Linked DNA regions of Homo sapiens. The protein of the gene in region 3 purifies or fractionates together with the protein of the main gene of each other region. This does not show direct contact. Each region holds a gene or a part of one and is shown on either strand. Other genes may lie near its edges.

Evidence for each region. Proteins that work in one complex are often made in the same cells at the same time.
Region 1: the proteins of BPGM (region 3) and FLYWCH2 purify together in Homo sapiens (affinity purification with mass spectrometry; 3 studies listed by BioGRID and IntAct, with this or other methods). This does not show direct contact.
Region 2: the proteins of BPGM (region 3) and KLF16 purify together in Homo sapiens (affinity purification with mass spectrometry; 3 studies listed by BioGRID and IntAct, with this or other methods). This does not show direct contact.

The regions. Positions count from the first base shown.
Region 1 is NC_000016.10:2,879,184-2,886,226, forward strand, and holds the start of FLYWCH2 (FLYWCH family member 2), read left to right. Parts: upstream 1-4,031; 5' UTR 4,032-4,183; intron 4,184-7,043.
Region 2 is NC_000019.10:1,860,568-1,867,652, forward strand, and holds the start of KLF16 (Krueppel-like factor 16), read right to left. Parts: upstream 3,013-7,085; 5' UTR 2,931-3,012; coding exon 2,474-2,930; intron 1-2,473. UniProt on the Homo sapiens protein: Transcription factor that binds GC and GT boxes and displaces Sp1 and Sp3 from these sequences. Modulates dopaminergic transmission in the brain.
Region 3 is NC_000007.14:134,656,842-134,663,863, forward strand, and holds part of BPGM (bisphosphoglycerate mutase), read left to right. Parts: intron 1-1,252; exon of another isoform or gene 1,253-1,869; intron 1,870-3,823; exon of another isoform or gene 3,824-3,919; intron 3,920-4,213; exon of another isoform or gene 4,214-4,294; intron 4,295-4,605; 5' UTR 4,606-4,666; coding exon 4,667-5,267; intron 5,268-7,022. UniProt on the Homo sapiens protein: Plays a major role in regulating hemoglobin oxygen affinity by controlling the levels of its allosteric effector 2,3-bisphosphoglycerate (2,3-BPG). Also exhibits mutase (EC 5.4.2.11) activity.

The sequences.
Region 1 (7,043 bases), on a different chromosome or scaffold from region 3:
TGTATTTCTAGTAGAGATGGGGTTTCACCATGTTGGCCAGGCTAGTCTCGAACTCCTGACCTCATGATCTGCCTGCTTCAGCCTCACAAACTGCTGGGATTACAGGCGTGAGCCACTGCACCCAGCCGTCTTGTTTTTTTTCCTCACTCTGTTGCCCAGGCTGGAGTGCAGTGGCATTGTTTTGTCTCACTGCAACCTCTGCCTCCCGGGTTCAAGCCTCCCACGTAGCTGGGATTACAGTCGCCCACGACGACCACACCCTGCTAATTTTTGTATTTTTAGTAGAGACTGGGTTTCACCATGTTGGCCAGGCTGGTCTCAAACTCCTGACCTCAGGTGATCCACCTGCCTTGGCCTCTCAAAGTGGTGGGATTACAGGCATGAGCCACTGCACCCAGCCTAAATTTCTATATAGTAAATATTGATAGATGTAACCCACATAACTAAAATCTCTCTGAGCGTCTCAATAACTAACAGTGAAAATGATGGCGGCAGGAGGCAGACAAATCCCCAGGCAGACAGAGACAGATCCCATCCCTGGTGAAACTGGCCTTCAAACCAAAGACATTTTAAAGCCTGAAAACCAAGCTACAAGTCTCTGATAAATTCATGGAACATACTGAGAACCTCTCTTCCCGTGTGGCCCACTTTCCTCTGACTGATCCCCACATTTCACCTATTTTACATACACCTACCCTTCCCTAACTGGTTGTTTACACTGTCATGCCCAATTTTGAGTGCCTTTTAAGCCTTTTTTGCATACTCAGAAACCAATCAGCATGCACTCCCCCATTCTGAGCCAATAAAAACCTCAGACTCAGCCACACTTGGGGTCTACACACCATGGCGGGGGGAACTACCCGACTTTGAGAGGGTCCCCTCTTCGCTGAGAGCTGTTTGTTAGCTCAATAAAACTCTTCACCCTGCTCACCCACTGGCTGTCAGCATAACCTCATTCTTCTTGGATGTGGGACAAGAACTCTGGAGGGTCTACCACTGGTAGGAAAAAGGCTGTAACACTGTAGCCCTCCACCCACCCCCAGAACCTGCCCAGGCAAGAGGAAATAGCAGTGGGCTGGGCCAGCCCTGAAGCTGAGGACCCAAGGGGGGCAGCGGGATTGAAAGAGCTGTAACATGACACAAATGGCGGAATGGGTGGGGTGTCTCCTGCACCGAGCCCAGGCCAAGGGAGGCCTGAACAGGGGTGCTGCTGGCCATGGAGGTCTCTGGCTGACTAAGGGGCACTGAAAAATCCTGTGTCATAAGTGGTTCTGAGACCAGAAAGTTTGAGAATTGCTGGACTAAGGAATATAAATTTTAAAACCAAGACTCACCAGGCACGGTGGCTCATGCCTGTAATCCCAACACTTTGGGAGGCCGAGATGGGTGGATCACAAGGTCAGGTGTTCAAGACCAGCCTGGACAACATAGTGAAACCCCGTCTCTGCTAAAAACACAAAAAAAATTAGCCGGGCTTAGTGGCGGGCACCTGTAATCCCAGCTACTTGGGAGGCTGAGGCAGGAGAATCACTTGAACCCAGGAGGTGGAGGTTGCAGTCAGCCGAGATCACACCACTGCACCCCAGCCTGGGCAACAAGAGTGAAACTCTGTTTCAAACAAAAACAAAAAGAAACAGAAAACAACCAAGACTCTTATCAGTCCACATGACAATACTCTGTGAATTCTCACAATGGCTGTAGGAGGTGGGTGCGTTATCACCCCCATTTATCAGGTGAAGACACTGAGGCACAGAGAGGGGATGTAATTGCTCATTCACACAGCTGGCAATTGACACAGCAGGGACTTGAACCCAAGCATCTAACCCCAAGCTTGTGCACTTCCTTGGGGACAATTTGGCTACATGTTTAAAAAGCTTTTAAAAATATTTGCCTCCTTTGACCTCTTTTAAGACTTTCAAGAAATCTTTGGCTGGGTGCGGTGGCTCACACCTGTAATCCCAGCACTTTGGGAGGCTGAGGCGGGTGGATCACGAGGTCAGGAGTTCAAGACCAGCCTGGCCAAGATGGTGAAACTCCGTCTCTACTAAAAATACAAAAAAATTAGCTGGGTGCGGTGGCAGGCGCCTGTAATCTCAGCTACTTGGGAGGCTGAGGCAGGAGAACCACTTGAACCCAGGAGGCGGAGGTTGCAGTGAGCTGAGATCGTGCTACTGCACTCCGGTCTTGCCAACAGAGTGAGACTCTGTCTCAAAAAAAAAAAATCTTTAATATCTCGACAGGCAAGGTGGCTCACATGTCTAATCCCAGCACTTTTGGAGGCCGAGGTGGGCAGATCACCGGAGGTAACTCCGGTTTGATACCAGCCTGGCCAACATGGTGAAATCCCATCTCTACAAAAATATAAAAATTAAGCATGATTACCGGTGCCTGTAATCTCAGCTACTTGGGAGGCTGAGGCGGGAAAATCGCTTGAACCCGGGAGGCGGAGGTTGCAATAAGCAGAGATCACGCCACTGCACTCCAGCCTGGGCGACAGAGCGAGACTCCATCTCAAAAAAAAAAAAAAAAAATCTTTGACATCAGAGATTCATATACAAAGATATTTATAACATCATCAAGTTAAAAACAACCAGTAGTCTGTGAATGATTAATAGATAACAGCAAATAAATGCACAAAGGTAGCTGGGCACGGTGGCTCACTCTTGTAATCCCAGCACTTTAGGAAGCCGAGGCGGGTGGATCACCTGAGGTCAGAAGTTCAATACCAGCCTGGCCAACATGGTGAAACCCGTCTCTACTAAAAGTACAAAAATTAGCCGGGCGTGGTGGCGGGCGCCCGTAATCCCGGCTACTCAGTAGGCTGAGGCATGAGAATTGCTTGAACCCGGGAGGCAGAGGTTGCAGCGAGCCGAGATCACGCCACTGCACTCCAGCCTGAGCGACAGAGCGCAATTCTCGTTTCTAAAAAAAAAAAAAAAGCACAAAGGCCTTGAATGACACCAGACAATGCCCGGGGAGATAGGATAGTGGGATGGGGGCAGCGGGAGCCTTGGTAGCGGAGTCCACGGTGGGATTCAGAGACCTGCAGAGCCAGGGCCGGGAGGGGCAGGGCAGAGGAAGGGCGTGCAGCGACGCTGGCATTCGGACGTGAGAAGGCGGAAGGTGCGGGAGGCCCCAGAGGATCTCGACCTGGACCCTGGAGCCCTGGGGCGGTGGCACATTCAGCGGCCGCTTTAGAGCGAGGGGGGCGGGGCGCGGAGCCAGGCTTAGGGGGACCAAGGTGGCCGGGGTAGTGGGGGCGACCCCGCGGGGCTGGGAGAGCCGCGGTGAGCCTAGGGGGCTGTGCGGGGGCCGCTCTGGACGCTGCAGCCAAGTGTCCCAGGAAAGCAGCGCCCAGGGCCCCACAGCTCCCTGTGCCCGGACCCAGCCCAGTCCCACTGCAGTGGGTGGCTGGAGGATGGCGAGTGTCCCGGGCACCCCTTGGGCCGGGTGAACGTGGTTGGGCACGGAGAGGGCGGGGCCCGTGGGCACGGGTGGGCCCAATGGGCCAGGGCTGGACCAATAACGAGAAAGGATGAATGGACAGGGGCTGAACTACAGAGAGAGGGCGGGACTATTGGGCGAGGGCTGGACCAATGGGCAGGGGCTAAACTAATAGACGAGGGCTGGACCAATGGCGCGGATGAGGCTGCTGCGTCGTCAAGGATGCAGAGCTTAAAGCAAGGCAGTGGCTTCCATGAGCCTAAACACCTTCCCTCCGCACGCTCGGTATCGCGACGGGGGAGAGCAAAACCTTTAAACAAATGCTCCAGTTTTCCCCGCAGAGAGCCGGAGTCAAATCCGTGAGGAAGCCCGGGGGTCGCAGTGAAGCCCAACCCACTGGTGCTGGGATAACCTCGCCCGCAACCCGGATCCAGGCCGCAGGTCCCCCGAGGCTCCGCCCCTGACGGCGACACTCAATCCCGGGTGTCCCCGCCCCCTTACTGAATTTTGGCCCCGCCTCCGCCCTCCGATTGGCCGGACGCCAGCTCTACGCCGCACGGGCAAGACGCGGAGGAGCGGCCCCAGCCAGAAGACAGGGCACCCGCGGCCTTGCTGCGCATGCTCGCGCTGTGACCCCGGCTTGAGGTAACAGCGCGAGCTGAGGCTGGGGCCCTTGGCGCGGAGGCTGAGGGACCCGCCGCGGCGCTGTCGCCGGAGAGGGAGGGCACCGCTGTCGTCGGTGAGGACGGGCCCTGGCGGGCGGGGAGGGTCCTGCGTCCTCGGCATGGACGAGTCCCCGGCCCGGCTCTCTCGGGGGTCCCGAGGGCTGCGGGTGCTGAGGAGGGGTCCGCGTCCTGGTGCTCAGGCCGCCTCCTGTGGGGTCTCCCGCGATTCCCTCTTTGCCTCTCGCCCCTCCTTCCCCACCCCCTCCAGTCCCTTGTCCAAAGCCTCAACACCCCCACACGAAGGAGGTCCGCACTCGCCCGCCGGTCCCTGGCCGTGTCCGCCGCGCCCAGCGCTGCCTTCCCGGCACCCCCCAACCCCCGCCGGCCTCGTCCCACGGTTGCAGCTCGGGAGGTCCCTGCAGGGACGGCAGCGAGTTGGAGGCGTGAGATACTGGGGCGGGGGAGACACTCGGGGCCTCAGGGTGTGGGTATTCTTGAGAGAGGAGAGAGCCGGGGAGCTGGGACCATTTGGGCGCAGCCCAGCCCGCGTTTGATGCCAATTGCATTGGGTAAAGGAGTGAAATAAAGATTCTGAGCCCTGGTGATTAGGGGAAGGAGCTGCCATGGCTGAAATTGCCATGGTGGGGAAGCTCCGCGCTGCACACCTTAGAGTAGCAGTTCTTGGCCTTCTTGGGGCAGGGGTCACTGCCGGTTTTTTAAATCTCCCTGTGAGGACGTGTACTGCACACCTTAGTGTCCCGTCATCCTGTCGGGGTCAATAACAGCCCCGCTGTGGACTGCGTGGAGCAGTAATTATTGGGGAGCAGCTGTCCATATCGTCTGGGAACTTTTGCGATGACTTCACCCTTGCCTGTCATCTATTAACAGCCCCTGATAAATTCACCACTATTTCCGTTACGCAGATGAAACCTGCTGGGAGGGTAAGGGATTTGTCCTCGCGGCTGAGGATGCCGGTGCTGGTGGACATTAGTGATGTTTCTCCCCCGTGCGTATGAAGATGATTCTGTGGGTCCACCATGAGGCACCAGGCAGGGGTCCTGTCGTCCAGAACATCGTCAGTGAGGGATTGAACCTTGTATTAGTTTCCTGTTGCTGTCCTAACAAATAAGGTGGCTTAAAGCAACACAGGCCGGGCGCGGTGGTTCACGCCTGTAATCCTAGCACTTTGGGAGGCCGAGGCAGGCAGATCACAAGGTCAGGAGATAGAGACCATTCTGACTAACATGGTGAAACCCCGTCTCTACTAAAAAAAAAAAAAAAAAAATACAAAAATTAGTCGGGGCCGGCGCGGTGGCTCACGCCTGTAATCCCAGCACTTTGGGAGGCCAAGGAGGGTGGATCACCTGAGGTCGGGAGTTCGAGACCAGCCTGACCAACATGGAGAAACCCCGTCTCAACTAAAAATACAAAATTAGCCGGGTGTGGTGGTGCACGCTTGTAATCCCAGCTACTTGGGAGGCTGAGACAGGAGAAAGGCTTGAACCCGGGAGGCAGAGGTTGCAGTGACCCAAGGTCGCGCCACTGCACTCCAGCCTGGCCGACAAGAGCGATACTCCGTCTAAAAAACAAAAACAAAAAAAAAACTCCGGGTGATTCTTAGGGATAGTGACATTGGGGAACTGCTGTTCATATGTTCATAGACTCAATTTACCTTTTTCTGAATATTTAACAACTTTATTGAGATAATTCACATACCGTGCAATTTACCCATTTAAAGTGTACATTTCGGCCGGGCGCGGTGGCTCACGCCTGTTATCCCAGCACTTTGGGAGGCCAAGGAGGGCGGATCACGAGGTCAGGAGATCGAGACCATCCTGGCTAACACGGTGAAACCCCGTCTCTACTAAAAATACAAAAAATTAGCCAGGCGTGGTGGCAGGCGCCTGTAGTCCCAGCTACTCCGGAGGCTGAGGCAGGAGAATGGCGTGAACCCGGGAGGCGGAGCTTGCAGTGAGATCACGCCACTGCACTCCAGCCTGGGCGACAGAGCGAGACTCCGTCTCAAAAAAACAAAACAAAACAAAAAAAAAAATATACAGTTCAGTGGCTTTAGTGTGATCACAAAGTTGTGCAACCCTCATGAAAATTCCTTTTAGGACATTTTCATCACCCCATAAAGCACATACCCACTAGTAGTCAATTCTCATTCTCCCCTTCCCCACCCCAATCCCGAGATAACCACAAATCTACGTTCTGTCTCCATAGATTTTCCTACTCTGTAGATTCTCTAGACTCTAAGTAATTTCATGTAAATGGAATCATATAATATGTGGTCTTTTGGGTCTGGCTTCTTTTACCGAGCATAATTTCTTCAAGGTTCATTCATGTTGTAGCATAGATTTTTTTTACTGCCAAATAATATTCCATTTTATACATGCACCACATTGTACTTATTCATTCATCCATTGATGGATATTTGGGCTGTTTTGAATATCCATCGAAACGTTTTGGCTTTCATGAATAATGCAACTGTAACATTCATGTACACATTTTTATGTGGACATGTGTTTTCCTTTCTTCCAGGCATATAGCTAGTAGTGGAATTGCTGGGTCATAGGGTAACTCTACATTTAACCTTTTGAGGAACTGCCAGGCTGGTTTCCAAAAATGGCTGCACCATTTTACATTCCCCTCAGCAGTGTATGAGGGTTCCAGTTTCTCCTCATCCTCACCAGCACTTGCTATTATCTGTTTTTTGTTTGTTTTATTATGTCCATCCTGGTGGTGTGAAGTGATATCTCATTGTGGTTTTGATTTGCATTTCCCTGGTGACTAATGATGTTGAGCATCTTCTCATATATTAGCCATTTGTATATCTTCTTTAGAGAAAAGCCTGTTTGGAGCCTTTGCCCATTATTATTATTATTGTTATTATTTTTTTTTTTTAGACGGAGTACCACTTTGATGCCCAGG
Region 2 (7,085 bases), on a different chromosome or scaffold from region 3:
TGGCCCCCGGGACAGCCCTGCAGCCACCGGTGACTCGGGTTCGTCTGCGGATCTTTCCCGGCCTCCACTCCATTCAGGGACAGCCCTGCAATGGGGCTCCCTCCCAAAAAAACGCATGGCCTTCCTGTCCCCCAAAACCAGCTTAACGGCAGCCATTCCCTCCCTCCTCCGGGGGCTGAAAAACCAGACCACCTTCCACTAAAAGAGGCCGTTTACACAGACCCCTTGGTGGTCCTGGGGGCTGGGGAGGCCCGGAAGAGGAGCCTGGAAAGCCACAAGTATCCAAAACCCTTTGGAAACCGAATCCAAGGTGCCTGGGCCTGGGACTGCCCTCCCAGTCCCCAAATCGTTACTGTAAAGGGGGCTTTGGAATGGGACGTCAGCAGGCTCAAGGGGTGGGGGAGGGTGCCAGGAGATCCGCCCTGCCCTCCCCCACCACACAGGGTAGACGGTGGCGCGCCATCAGCACAACTGCATCCACCCCTGGGGATGCCCGACTGGGCACCCCCAGGCCTGTTTCTTACTGCAATCCCGGGATAACAATACTGCCTTCCCAGGACTCCAAACCCATCCCTCCCCTCCCTGCTGGCTTAGGGACCGCTGCCCCAATACCCGGGGGCCTATGGAAGCGCCTCTTGGGTGCCACTCAGGGAGGTGGCCATCCCGTCCACTTAACCCAGAAACTCAGAAAACCCAAATGGAGCTCTCAGGCCACGCCATCTGGCAAGAAAAGAATGACCTGGGTAGACAGGTGGGAGTCGCTTTCCCAACAGGCTCCCACTTCAGCCCCGTCTGTTCAGATCGCCCAACTTACCCCCAAAAAGCCAGGGCACTCCTGGACCCCTGCCCACCGCCCGGAGAGGCACCTCCCTTTCTGTTCCCAACGCTGCCTCGCCATCTTCACAGACCCCCAATGTCCCTCCCCGCGGAGATACACGGACCCCATTGCCCTCAAAAAGAGGTAACACCCTGGGACCCCTCCGCCGAGGATGTGTGGCTCCTCGCAGAAAACGCAGACCCCACCCAAGTCCTGTCTTGACGCCCTCGGTTCCCGTCTGTGTCTCAAGGTGGGCAGAGCCTCCAGGCCCCTGGGACCAGGACAGGGACTGAGCGAGGGGTGAAAAGAGTGCAGAACAGAGAGGGGGCGGCCGGCAGGCTACACACCACCGCCCCCACCCGCCCTCCTGCTCTCCACCCTCAGGCGTCCCAGCGCGGCTCCCCATACCCCAAAGATGGACCCTCAATTCTTCCGCAAGGCATTCGCGGCCCCTGCTCATCTCAGCCCCACCACTCTGGACGGCCCACTTCCCTTCGGCTGCTCCACGTGTCCCTACAATCCGAGCCCACGGACCAAGCCTCCTTGGAGTGTCCAGCTGCCCAAAGCGGCCACCGCTATGGCTATGAAATAGAGGCAGCATCGCACTCTTGATAGAAATGAGAAAATTGAGACCCAGATCGGGTAGAGGTCTTCTGTTTGGTGGCAAGGCCAGAATGCCAAGCCCAAGGGCAGCCGCACAGCTTTCCCCCAGCCCCCCACCCTCCCCGGAAGGGACAAGCACCTCTAATGCCCAAACCAGGGCCGGCCATCAAGGCCCACCGTCCCCTGTTGCCCAGTCCAAACTCCCAGTCCAGAAAGTGGAACCCTAGGAGGGGACGGAGTGAAAAAATACAGCCAGGCCCACCAGGCTCCCGGTTCCCCTCGCCGCCCCGGGGACTGCGCTAGGAGGGGCGTTGGTGTAGCCGAAGCGCTCCAACTACGCGCACCTTCCCGAATCGCCCGCCAGGTAGGGGTGAACAAACACGCCAGGGAAATACAGCAGTGTGGACCCGAGCCCCTCGAGGGTCCTCCAATACTATGAAGTTCCCCCGCCCAGACTCAGGCCCCAACCCGCGCTCCTAGCCTCGCCCTCCCCCTCGTTAAAATACAGAGAACGCAGAGAAAACGTGCCGGGCTCCCCCCATCCTGGCCCCACGCCAGGTGCTCTGCCGACCTCTGGGGAGAATCCGCGCGGCCACCCCGGCGGCGGCGACGCGGTTCCTCCTCCATTTTCACAGATAAGGAAACTGAGGCTGGGGGAGGGGGAGAACCCAGAACCCCAGAGCCGGATGCTCCAACCACGGTGCCCACCGCCCAGACCAGAACGCAAAAGAAAAAAAAAAAAACGGAACAAGGCCCAGAAAGGGAGAGAGGTGGTCTGCCCAGGAGTCTCAATCCCGCCCGCAGACCTCGCTGGGCCCCCGGAGCCCCCGCCACTGCCGCCGGGGCGGCCATCCGCTCGCCGCCCGACCGCGTGGCCGCCACGCCCCCCGCGCGCGCCCCACCCACCGAGGCCCCGCCCTGCCGGCCGGCGCGGCGGCGGCCCGGGCGCGCCCCCCTCCCCGCCCCCCACGCGCCACGCAGTTTCGGGGTCCTGGCGGGGGAGGGGTCTCAGGCGGCCGCCCCCGCAAGGGCCGGGATCGCGGCTGCACTCACCTGTGTGCGTCCGCAGGTGCGACTTTAGGTGCGAGGACTTGTAGTAGGCTTTGGCGCAGTCCGGGAAGGGACAGCGGTGGCTCTTGGCGGCGGCGGAGGGCGCGGCGCCGGGGGCGCGGCCCGAGGACGGGGACGAGGCGGCTGAGGAGGAGGAGGCGGGCGAGGCGCCCCCCGGGGCGGCTCCGGGTCCGCCGCGCAGGTCGGCCAGGATGCTGGCGGCCAGCAGGTGGGGCGCCGCGGCGGCGCCGGGGCCCGGGCCAGAAGCGGCGGGGGGCGGCGGGGGTGGCCCCGGGGTCCCGGGTGAGGCGGCCTCGCGGCGCGCCGCGCGCACATCCAGGCCGGCGGCGGGGCCCGCGCCCTCGGGGCCGGGCCGCCCGCGGTGCACCACGGCGCCCGAAGAGATGGCCATGAGCACGTCGGCGGCGAAGTAATCCACGCACGCCACGGCCGCCGACATGCCGAGCAAGGGCGCGCGGCGCGGCGGGCGGAGCGGAGGCGGCGGGAGCGGCGTCCGTCCGGCCGGCGGCGGCTGCTCGAGTGCGGGAGGCGGAGGAGGAGGAGGAGGAGGCCCGGCGCGCGCCGCCGCCGACGCCCGCGCTCGGCCTGCCCCGCCCCGCCTGACGCGTCCTGACGCACCGGAGCCCGCGGGGGCGGCCACAGCCCGCCCCGCCCGGAGGACGCCCCCTCGGGGCGCCGCAGCCACGCCCCCCGCCCGGCGCGCCCTCCACCACTCTCCGAGCCGCGCGCGGCCGCCGGGGGCGGGGCTCGGGCCGGAGGAACCCGCCCCCCGGCGCGCCCACTCCGGCCTCCGCCAGCGCCTAGCGTCTTAGGCCCGGAGCGCGCCTTCTCCGCGCTAGGGTGCAAGGCCGGGAGCCCCGCCCCCTCCCGGCGCGCCCCACTCCAGCGCGCGCCCCCGTACCCTTTCCCGGAGCACCACCCCCTCAAGCCGGGGCGGGAGGCCGAGGACCCCGCCCCCTCTCCGGCACGCCCCTCCTTCCGAGAGCGCGCCCCGCCCCATCCCGGCACGCCCCTCCCTCCCAGAGCGCGCCCCGCCTCCTCGCTGGCGCGCCCACCCCACGCCGGGGCGCGCGGCCGGCGGGAGCCCGCCCCCTCCCCGGATGCTTCCCTCCTGGCCCCGGGCGCGCCCCCGTTCGCGATGGAGGAGGGCTCCGATCCCCACGTGGCCGGGGTTGGAGGGGTGCGGAAGCGGCCGGCCCCGCCCCCAGGCCACGTGCGCGACCCTTCCCCCCTCTTCTCCCGGCCTGGGGCCCTGCTTTGACCCCGCACTCAGGCATCTGCTCGTCCTCTTCTCTGGGGTTCCCCCTCGCCGCTCACAGAGCCCCTCGGAGCCTCCCGGCCGAGACACCCGGTATCCCGCGCCCGCGGCGGGGCCCGGGAGGGTGGGGCAAGGCTGCGTTCGTTCCTCTTTTTGCACCCAGTTCCGGAGCTACTAGAGCGCGCCCCACTGGGGGTGGGGAGGGCCGGTTGGGTCCCAGAGGGTCGGGATAGGGGGACGGGAAGAGGGGGCCGAACGCAAAGGGCTGGGCTGGGCTGGGGGCGCCTGAGCGGGTCAGAGGTTCCCCGCCCTGCTGGGACACCGGGGTCCGGGGCTTCTCTTTCCATTCCCAGGCATCGATTCTTGGGGTTCGGACGGGAAAACTGAGGCCAGGTATTCGGGCCTCCCGGCCGCGAGGACGTCCAGGCCAACTTGTTAAATATTAGGGGGGACACCAGGGACGCGGATGGCCCAGTTCGCAGGCCCAAGGCGGCGGGGGCACAGAAACTGGGCGGCCCCCCTCGGTCGCGACCGCGCTCCCGCCCCTTCCCAGCTCCGGCGGGGCGGCGGGGACTGCGCAGTGGCCGGAGCTGCCTCCAGGGGGCGGAGCTGCTTTGGCCTGCGGCGACCTCCTGCTCTGGGTTGGGCATGGACAGAGGCCCTGACCCGATTCGGGGCTTCTCTAGCCCCATCCCCCGCCCACCTGCAACCCCAGCTGACGCCCTGAGGCTGACCACTGTTCCCTGGGTCGCCCGCACTGCGCCTGGGCTCAACCATGCTTGGTTAAGCCAGCTGAGCCCTCCCTGGGCCCCAGTAAGCCCACTCTACGTGGCTGGACAGAGCGGAGCCGAGAGAGAGGAGGTTCAGCGAAGTGTGGGAGGGTACAGGGTGCCCTGCACACACTTGCCCCTCTCCTAGGCCTGGGCTCCAGAGCCCTCTCTGCACCCCTACCATTCGGTGGGCGCTGGGGGTCGGCGTTCCTGCTCCTGCTGGGCCTCTGTTGTCTTTGAACTTCTAGGACGATGGGCCACTTGGGCAGGTCCCCCAGGTCCCCACCATCCCAGCAGCCCCCAGGGTCCTGGAACCCCGCATTGGCTTGTGGACAGGTGTGTCTTGAGGCCTCAGGGTCCACACCCAACCATGCGTCTTCCACTGATGTTTCCTGGGCTTAGAGCAGAACCAACCAGCCCTGCCCTCAAGGGGCTTACAGTTGTAACTGGGAGGCTAACGATGGGGGGCAGGGGTGAGCAGCCTCCAGGGGTGGGCCACATGGCCCCAGGCAGGACCTTCACTGTGAGACTCCATTGTCTGCCCACTCCAGCCATTATCAGGGTTTCAAGTGAGTGGCCTCATCTGCAGGTCATGCCAGCCACTCCACAGGCAGGAGACCCCAGGTGAGGGCACACAGCCCACACCCCACCCATGAGGCTTCTATTCACACCCCTAAGCCCCAGGAACACTCAGGCAACCCATGACCCCTGCGGTGAACACAGACAAACCTCCAGCAGCGCCCGGCACAGGGCTCTGTCCTCTCTTCCTTACTCTCTATGACCCTGTAAATTCTCCACCGGGTGCGGTGGCTCACGCCTGGAATGCCAGCACTTTGAGAGACCAGGGTAGGAGGATCACTTGAAGCTATCAGTTCAAGACCAGCCGGGGCAACGTAATGAAACCCCCAACTCTCCACATTAAAAAATGAGCTGCAGGCCGGGTGCAGTGGCTCACGCCTGTAATCCCAGCACTTTGGGAGGCCAAGGCTGGCAGATCACCTGAGGTCAGGAGTTCGAGACTAGCCTGGCCAATGTGGTGAAATCCCGTCTCTACTAAAAATACAAGAAAAAATTAGCCGGGCCAGGTGGTGGGCACCTGTAATCCCAGCTACTCAGAAGGCTGAGGCAGGAGAATCGCTTGAATCTGGGAGGTGGAGGTTGCAGTGAGTTGAGATCGAACATTGTACTTCAACCTGGGCGACAAGAGCAAAAACTCCATCTCAAAAAAAAAAATTAGCTGGAGGCCAGTCATGGTGGCTCACGCCTGTAATCCCAGCACTTTGGGAGGCCGAGGCAGGCGGATGACCTGAGGTCGAGAGTTCGAGACCAGCCTGACCAATATGAAGAAACCCCGTCTCTACTAAAAATACAAAAAAAATTAGCCGGGCCTGGTGGCGCATGCCTGTAATCCCAGCTACTCAGGAGGCTGGGGTAGGAGAATCGCTTGAACCCAGGAGGCGGAGGTTGCAGTGAGCCGAGATCGTGCCACTGCACTCCAGCCTGGGTGACAAGAGAGAAACTGTCTCAAAAAAAAAAAAAATTAGCGGGCGCAGTGGCCTCACACCTGTAGTCCCAGCTACTCAGGAGGCTAAGGTGGAAGGGTCGCTTGAGCCCAGGAGGTCAAGGCTGCAGTGAGCTGTGACTGCACCACTGCACTCCAGCCTGGGTGACAGAGTGGGACCCTGTCTCAAAAAAAAAAAAAAAAAAAGGAGTTGTCATTCCCATTCTACAGATGAAAAAATCAAGACTGGGAGAGGACCGAGAACAGCCGGCTCCTGCTCACAGCTAAGAGGCAGCAGACACTTTGGGGCATCCATAACTCAGCCCCTTCTTTCTTCAAACCTGTTCCTCACCTATAAATGGGGGCTCACCTCTACCCTTCCCTGACAGCGCCCAAGAGGATCAGGGGGACAGCTCCTCCCAGCCCCAAAGATGGACCTCCCAAGCCTGAGGGCTATGGAGCAAAGCTCAGCAGGGGACAGACAGCACCCAGGTGTTGCTGGGAGTGGGTCTCTAGCAGGGCAGGAAGAACACAACGGGACTCTCAGAGGGGCCACGGAGCCAGGAACTGGGGCCTTGCCTCATAGAGGGCAAAGAACACAGTCTCCCAGAGGACAGATGAGGGCAGAGGTCACATAACCGGGGGTGCACCCACAACATGGATACCCCAAGGTAGGTGAGGGCCAAAAACAAGGCTGCAGGGCCGGGTGCAGTGACTCACGCCTGTAACCCCAACACTTTAGGGGGCTGAGATGGGAGGACTGCTTGAGCCCAGGAGTTCAAGACCAGCCTGGGCAATATAGTGAGACCCCTGTCTGCATAAAAAACAAATTCAAAACTTACCCAGGCATGGTAGTGCACGCCTGTGGTCCCAGCTCTTCGGGAGGCCGAGGCGGGAGGATTGCTTGCGGCCCCGAGGTCAAGGCTGCAGAGAGCTGTGATACACCCCAGCCTGGGCAACAGAGCGAGATCCTGTCTCTAAAAATAGTGATAGATTGTCTGGGTGTGGTGGCTGATGCCTGTAATCTCAGCACTTTGGGAGGCCAAGGCAGATGTATCACCTGAG
Region 3 (7,022 bases):
TAGCTCATTTCAGCATCAACCCAAAAGTCCAAATCCAAAGTCTCATCTGAGACGAGGCAAGCCCTCTCTGCCTATGAGCCTAGAAAATTGAAAGCAAGTTAGTTACTTCCTAGATACAGTGGGGCTACAGGCATTGGGTAAATATACCTGTTCCAAATGGGAGAAATTGGCCAAAACAAAGGGGCTACAGCAGGCCCCATGCAAGTCCAAAATCCAATAGAGCAGTTGTTACACCTTAAAGTTCCAAAATGATCTCCTTTGACTCCATGTCTGAATGATAGCTTTTGGACCTATAGGATTCATGTGGCTTGTAGAAAATTTAAAACTTCATTGTGCCTCGCATTATATCTTGATTGGACACAACTGATCTAAAGGATGACTAGAGCTTAACCTAAAGCAGGGTGAGACTGAAGTGGCAATGGAGAGAAGAGATGAAGGGTGAGTGTTCTGCATAGGGTACAGTGTGTGCAAAACTACTGAGGCAAGAAAGAACCTGACATGCTCAAGGAAATAAAACGAAAGCCTTGCAGGTCACATGAAGGATTCTGAACATTTTCTAAGACCAGTAGGAAGAATTGAGGTTTTAAAATAAGATACTCAATTTTCAAGGAGTTTAATTGTTAGTTTGCAGTTAATAAATGAGGGCAAGAGAACTTCAACTGAATATAGCAAGACTTTCAACATTGAAGCTCCCCAACTCCCTAGGATGGTGGGGGAGGGGCGATTTGGTCAGTGGAGGAAGCAGGACGCTGCCCATCACCTGAACCTAACCCTAGGGTATGAGGCATGAGCACCCCCCACTAGAGAGAGAAGCAGTGTCACCTGGGAAGAGGTCGTTTTCAGTTCAGATCTTTTTCAGTGCAATTGACACTCAAAGCTGAGTGGGAGTTTGAGGACAGAGCTAGGAATTCTGCAGGGCACCAGCAAATGGTTTGGTGAGGGAGGGCTGTAAAGGTGGGTCAGGGAGAAGGAAGCCCAGAGCATTATGGGGATTAGAGGGTCTGTCCTTTGAAAGGCTGTGTTGGGCAATAACAGGAAAGCTGGTTAAGTGGTCCAGACGCTTGGGTTCTGACCGTCTCCTGGGGTATAGTGGCTGTACCATTTATCTGTGGCCTAGGGGAGGTTTCCCTTTAAGTCAGAGGTCATAAGCTAGCAGCCACGATCTAGCCTGCAGAAGAAATGTTTTGTTTCACTCACATTTTACAAATATACATTAGTTGCTAATATTTAAATCAGATATCAGATAAAAATACACGTTTTCATTTTTTTTTTAATTGGAAGATCTAGAAACCTCAGTTGCTCAGTATCACAGGGCAATGGGCTGGAGCTAAGTAGTAGGTACTCCTTTGATTTTTTACATGAATTTTTAGGAGGTTTTGAAATGATTGTTTTAGCTTTTTTAAAAAAGACATTTATTTACTCAAAGTTTCTCTGTGGTCTGACTCTAAGTCTTGCATTCATCCTAGTCTTCGATGTCAGCAATCCCATCTTCTTTTTGTTTTCCAGAAAAGTTCTAAGAACAGTGCTGTTGGCTCAGTGAGATGAGGTTATCGGAAAACTTTCTGTTTACACAAGAGTTGCCTCCTTCAAAGAAGCATGCATGGTCCTTGCAGGTCACTGTGCCCATCACTCTGCATAGTCCAGCTGCACTCTGCTTCACACAGCTGCCTGCCCATTGCAGGCATTTGAGTTTGCAATCCATGCCTTAAACTTTAAATCACACTGGCTACAGCGTTGTGTGTTTCTTGGTAAACACTGGGTAAATCAGCTCCTGTGGATGTTGACTGAAGTTTCTATGTTTGCAAGCTAATCCTCAGCAGTTTCTTTGTAAGTATCCAGCAGTTAAGTGGGAAAAGTCCGTTGATAGTACTAGGGAGGAGAGAGGAAAGTGACCTTTTGTTTTCTTGAGATAGACATACTAGTTTAGTACTTTATCATGTATTCACCTGCGTAAATGTATTCCTGTGCTTCAGAGTGAGGGAAGGATGCATATTTGCATAGTTTTTGTGACTGCAGTACTGTTCCTCTGTTCTGGTGTGTGTGTGTGTGTATTTTTTTTTTAGTAAAAAGAAAACAGAACTTTGTTTTAATGCAGTAAGCAAATATAGGAGAATAAGATACCACAAAGCTTGGTGGTGGGTGCCTGAGTGTCCATGTTGCTATTACTACATTGTTTTGTCCCCTTGATATAGTTTATAATCAAAAGATGGTGGAAAGGTGCTTCTGTCTACAAAATTTGTCTAACCATGCCCTTCTTTAACTGAAGAGAGAATGGCTTCATTAGCTTATGGAGGTTTCTCACTTGACAAGATAAACTGAGGGTGAAGGTAGAGGAACAGTTGATAGCTTCTTTTTTCTCCATCCCCCTCCTCCACTACCAATAACAAAACAAAATGATCAATGGTTACAAAGGGTAGATACAGTTTTTGATGGAGCTGAGGCTTCTACTACTTGGTGGATTGGGGCTTTGTAAAGAAACACTGCAAAAATATCTTCCATTTGCAAATTAACACACTTACACACACCCCTCCGTGTGTGTGTGTGTGTGTGTGTGTGTGTGTGTGTGTGTGTTCATCACCTGGTTTCTCACAGGTGAGGGGCTCTGAAGCTTGAACTTTGTTAGATTCATGACTATTCTGCCCCTGGGCACAGGCAGTCATCTGGCAAAACACTGCCTAGATACCTTTTGTTCCCTTCTCTGTTCTGCCACCCTGATGCCTCTTCTAGGCTAAGGACAGAGACATTGGGCTTCCTCCTTGGGAATTCTCAGCTCTGTGGGATGCTTTAATCTGGGTCCTGAGCCCAGGCTCTTCTGGTTCCCTGGCACTTCCCTGCTGCACATGCACAGCAACCTGGTACTTAACAAGAAAGGAAAATCATCATCCTAACTGCTGTAGCCTTTCAACTTCAGTCATGCACCACCTAATGATGTTTCAGTCAAGCATGGATCGTGTAAATGATGGTGGCCCTGTAAGATGGTAATGGAGCATATATAGACATCTGATATGTGGCACTTGACATTGGCATTGCAGATCGAGTAGGGGAAATGACTGATATTCAGTAATTGTGCTGGGATACTTGGCTTTCCATATGAAAAAACATAAGTAACAATATGTATACCATCTAGGTTTGTGTAAGTACATTCTATGTTGTTTGCACGACAAAATCACCTAATGATGCATTTGCCAGGACATATTCCCTTCATTAAGCAACACATGACGATACTTGCAAATCACCTCAATTTGATTTCTTTCCTTAAGTCCTCTGTTTGCCTTCCATTGAAATATAAAGCCTTATTTTAAAGACTGTTTTCCCTTCAGAATCTCTAGGAATTACTAAAGAAAGGTAGAAACTAGATCTAGATTCCAATCAATTTTGCCATTGATTGTTATTTTACTGTGGGTGACTCACAGTTTAAGTGGGAGAGAAAATCTCCAGTTAATGGAAGTTGCCAAGAGTGGCAGAAGACCAGGCTGTAGTGCTCGTATAATCTTTACAACCCAGTGTGCAAAACACTGGAGGAGAGATGGAGAGGCCGGGCGTGTAAACCAAGCATGTGTCAGTGCAGATGTGTCCACCACAAGGAGAGAGAGAGGCGGGCTGAGCAGCCATGTCAGCAGATTCTCCGAGGATGGAGTGGGCCCAGCAGATCTTCAGGCCAGCAGCTTAAATGTAAGGAGTTCAGCATAGCTTGAGAGTTGCTGGTCTCCCTTTACTAGATTCTCCCCCTGCTAAGACGTAGCTGGTGTGTGTAGGATATCTGGAGGGCTGGGGAGGAGGAGGTGGGGCCTCTTTATCAGTGTGGTTCCTCTCACTCCTGCCTACCAGATCTGTTTGTACAGGCAGCATCCCTCAGCTGCTTGCATTTGATAGCTTATTTTGCATCTGGATTTATTCCTGCTGAAAACTCTATCTTGAGGTAGGTGCAAGATTATTTAGGTACGTACCATATTTGGTGTTAATGTCTCTTTAAAGCACTTTTAATTTGTCTGAATGTTGAACTGATGTGTTTTGCATACCTTAGATTTTCTTGTGTGTTGTAGCCTGTGGCATTGAAGAGCTAGTTGCCACCAGCCAGTGATACATATCAGATATATGCAGTGGTGCATTGAAATAACATGTTTAATAACTTCTATAATAAGAATGTGAGACTGGTAAATACTTCTTTTTCCACCACAGGAAAACAAAGTGAAAAGGATGCCTTCAGTGTAGAGTCAGCTGCTGGGAGCTGGGAGTTCCCAGCCACTAGTCATTCTTTCAGACGTCTGTAACTCATTCTATTAAATCCTTTCTACTGTAAGCATAAATTGCCTTTGTATCTGGCAGAAACACAGCATGCCATTAGAATGAAGTGTTTTGTTATTTTATGTCATGCAATTAACATGCTATCCAAACATCAGAAAATTTAAGTCAACTAGATTCCCTGTAATGAATTATTAATATCTATAGAATATGCCTGTATGTGTCACAGTGTATGAGTTATCACATTTCTGACTGTTCAAAGGGATTTCAGTTTCTTTTAGAAATTGGGTGTTGTAAAGCGATGTTTCTATTCCTAGATTGTCAGTTGAATATAACTTAGACTTGTTGTTCTTGTCTTTCTAGATGTATTGCTGTCCTTGAATATTAGCCCATTTGAAAACGCCTGGGAAGTTCAGCCATCAGTATGTCCAAGTACAAACTTATTATGTTAAGACATGGAGAGGGTGCTTGGAATAAGGAGAACCGTTTTTGTAGCTGGGTGGATCAGAAACTCAACAGCGAAGGAATGGAGGAAGCTCGGAACTGTGGGAAGCAACTCAAAGCGTTAAACTTTGAGTTTGATCTTGTATTCACATCTGTCCTTAATCGGTCCATTCACACAGCCTGGCTGATCCTGGAAGAGCTAGGCCAGGAATGGGTGCCTGTGGAAAGCTCCTGGCGTCTAAATGAGCGTCACTATGGGGCCTTGATCGGTCTCAACAGGGAGCAGATGGCTTTGAATCATGGTGAAGAACAAGTGAGGCTCTGGAGAAGAAGCTACAATGTAACCCCGCCTCCCATTGAGGAGTCTCATCCTTACTACCAAGAAATCTACAACGACCGGAGGTATAAAGTATGCGATGTGCCCTTGGATCAACTGCCACGGTCGGAAAGCTTAAAGGATGTTCTGGAGAGACTCCTTCCCTATTGGAATGAAAGGATTGCTCCCGAAGTATTACGTGGCAAAACCATTCTGATATCTGCTCATGGAAATAGCAGTAGGGCACTCCTAAAACACCTGGAAGGTACCAGCTTTATATACCACTTATTAGAGGTTGCCAAGTGTGATATCTAGGCCTTAATCTAGAAATTAAGCTAATGAGGCCCTATTTACACAATAGACTCCTCTATCCCCCTTTGTCACTTCAGATTTAAGAATTGTCTTGTTCTATAAATCAGATCTCTTGTGTGTTTTCTGTTCCTGTTACCCGAAGCAGCAGTTTTCAGACTTTAGCAAGCATCAGAGTCACCTGGAGAGGTTGGTGTATCACAGATTGTGGGTCCCACCCTCAGAGTTTCGGAATCAGTAGGTCTGGGGCGCACCCTGAGAATCTGCATTTCTTAGAAGTTTTAGGTGATGCTGATACTGCTGATTGGGGTTCCACACTTTGAGAAGCACTAGTCTAAAGGACTGTATGGCTTGTTGTAGTGAAATGAAAGGAAGCTAGGAAAGGAAGGAATTGTTGAAATGGCCTTGAAAGTAAATTAGAGTTTTTCAAGTCAAGTAAATTATCTAGACTTCAGTTTTGCTCACGTTCTTCCAACTTTAAACAATGATTGCTGTTCCTAGACGTAGGTTTCCTGAGCAGTTCTTTTGTTTCAAACTTCTTTTCAGAACAGGCTTAGTCATTGACTGGAAGAAAGTTAGGGGGAAGGAAACTAAAAGGATAGTTGGTTTATTTATCTTGACTCTAAAAATTTGGAAATCAGCAGCAGCCATAATTTTAACTACTTTATGTCATGTTCTACATGTATACTAAAACATACTGTATTGTTACCTTTTTAAGTAACATGAACCAAATGAACTCTTGAGGATTCAGGTTCACCGGTTTTGAGCATCAGTGATTGCACTGTGACACCTTCTGGATTTCTCACTGTTCTGTGGATTTCTCGTTTCCCTCTCTGCCTCCACTCATCCCAGATGGTTGTGCTTTTTGCGTGATATGCCCTGTCTGGTGTTTTCCTGCCTTTCATCACTGTCAGCAGTTAGCTTACTGGTAATAAATAGAAGAAATTTCTCCACCATTCGTTTTCATTCTGCTTTAATTTTCTATAAGAGGCTGTGACAAATAAAAAGGCTGACCTTGTATGTGAAATAAGTAGAAATAGATTATTAGTTAAAAATGAAGTAATCTTTAGCATGTGATTATTTTCCCCTAATTTTTATAACATGACCAAGAACTAAATCATTACTTGTATAGCTGACATCCATTAGTCATGCAGAGACCTAAAATCTACAGACTATTAGATACTAAAATTTTATTGGCTAGACATGGCACTTGATATGTGTGTGTGTGTGTGTTTGTGTGTGTGCACGTGCGCATGTGCGTGGGCACATGTGTATCTTATTTACTCAACTATATAAAAGGTTCTATTCTTGTTCAGAATAATTAGATCTTTAACTTCATTATTAGTGATATATAACTTCATCATTAATGGACCATAGTATTTTATTGTTTGAAGAAGAGTTGAGGCTTCTACTAGACAACAACAAACTGAAATTCAGAATTTCAGAGTTTCTGCCAGAGGTGTATTCTATTCAACCGTGCCAACTCCTTTTTCAGAGCTGGGTCTCAGATTTATTGTGGCCAGGCTCCCTTCTCTCAAGAAAACACCACTATCTCCTTTAGGATCATCTTTCTCCACCTTCTTAGCTTGGAAGTCCCCCTTTTAAAAAAGTTTCCTACTGTTTAATACCATTGACTCTTCACCTATCTTCAAATTTATTATAGATCTCTTTAAAACGATTCTACAGCCCAACCACAGCTCATTGTACACAT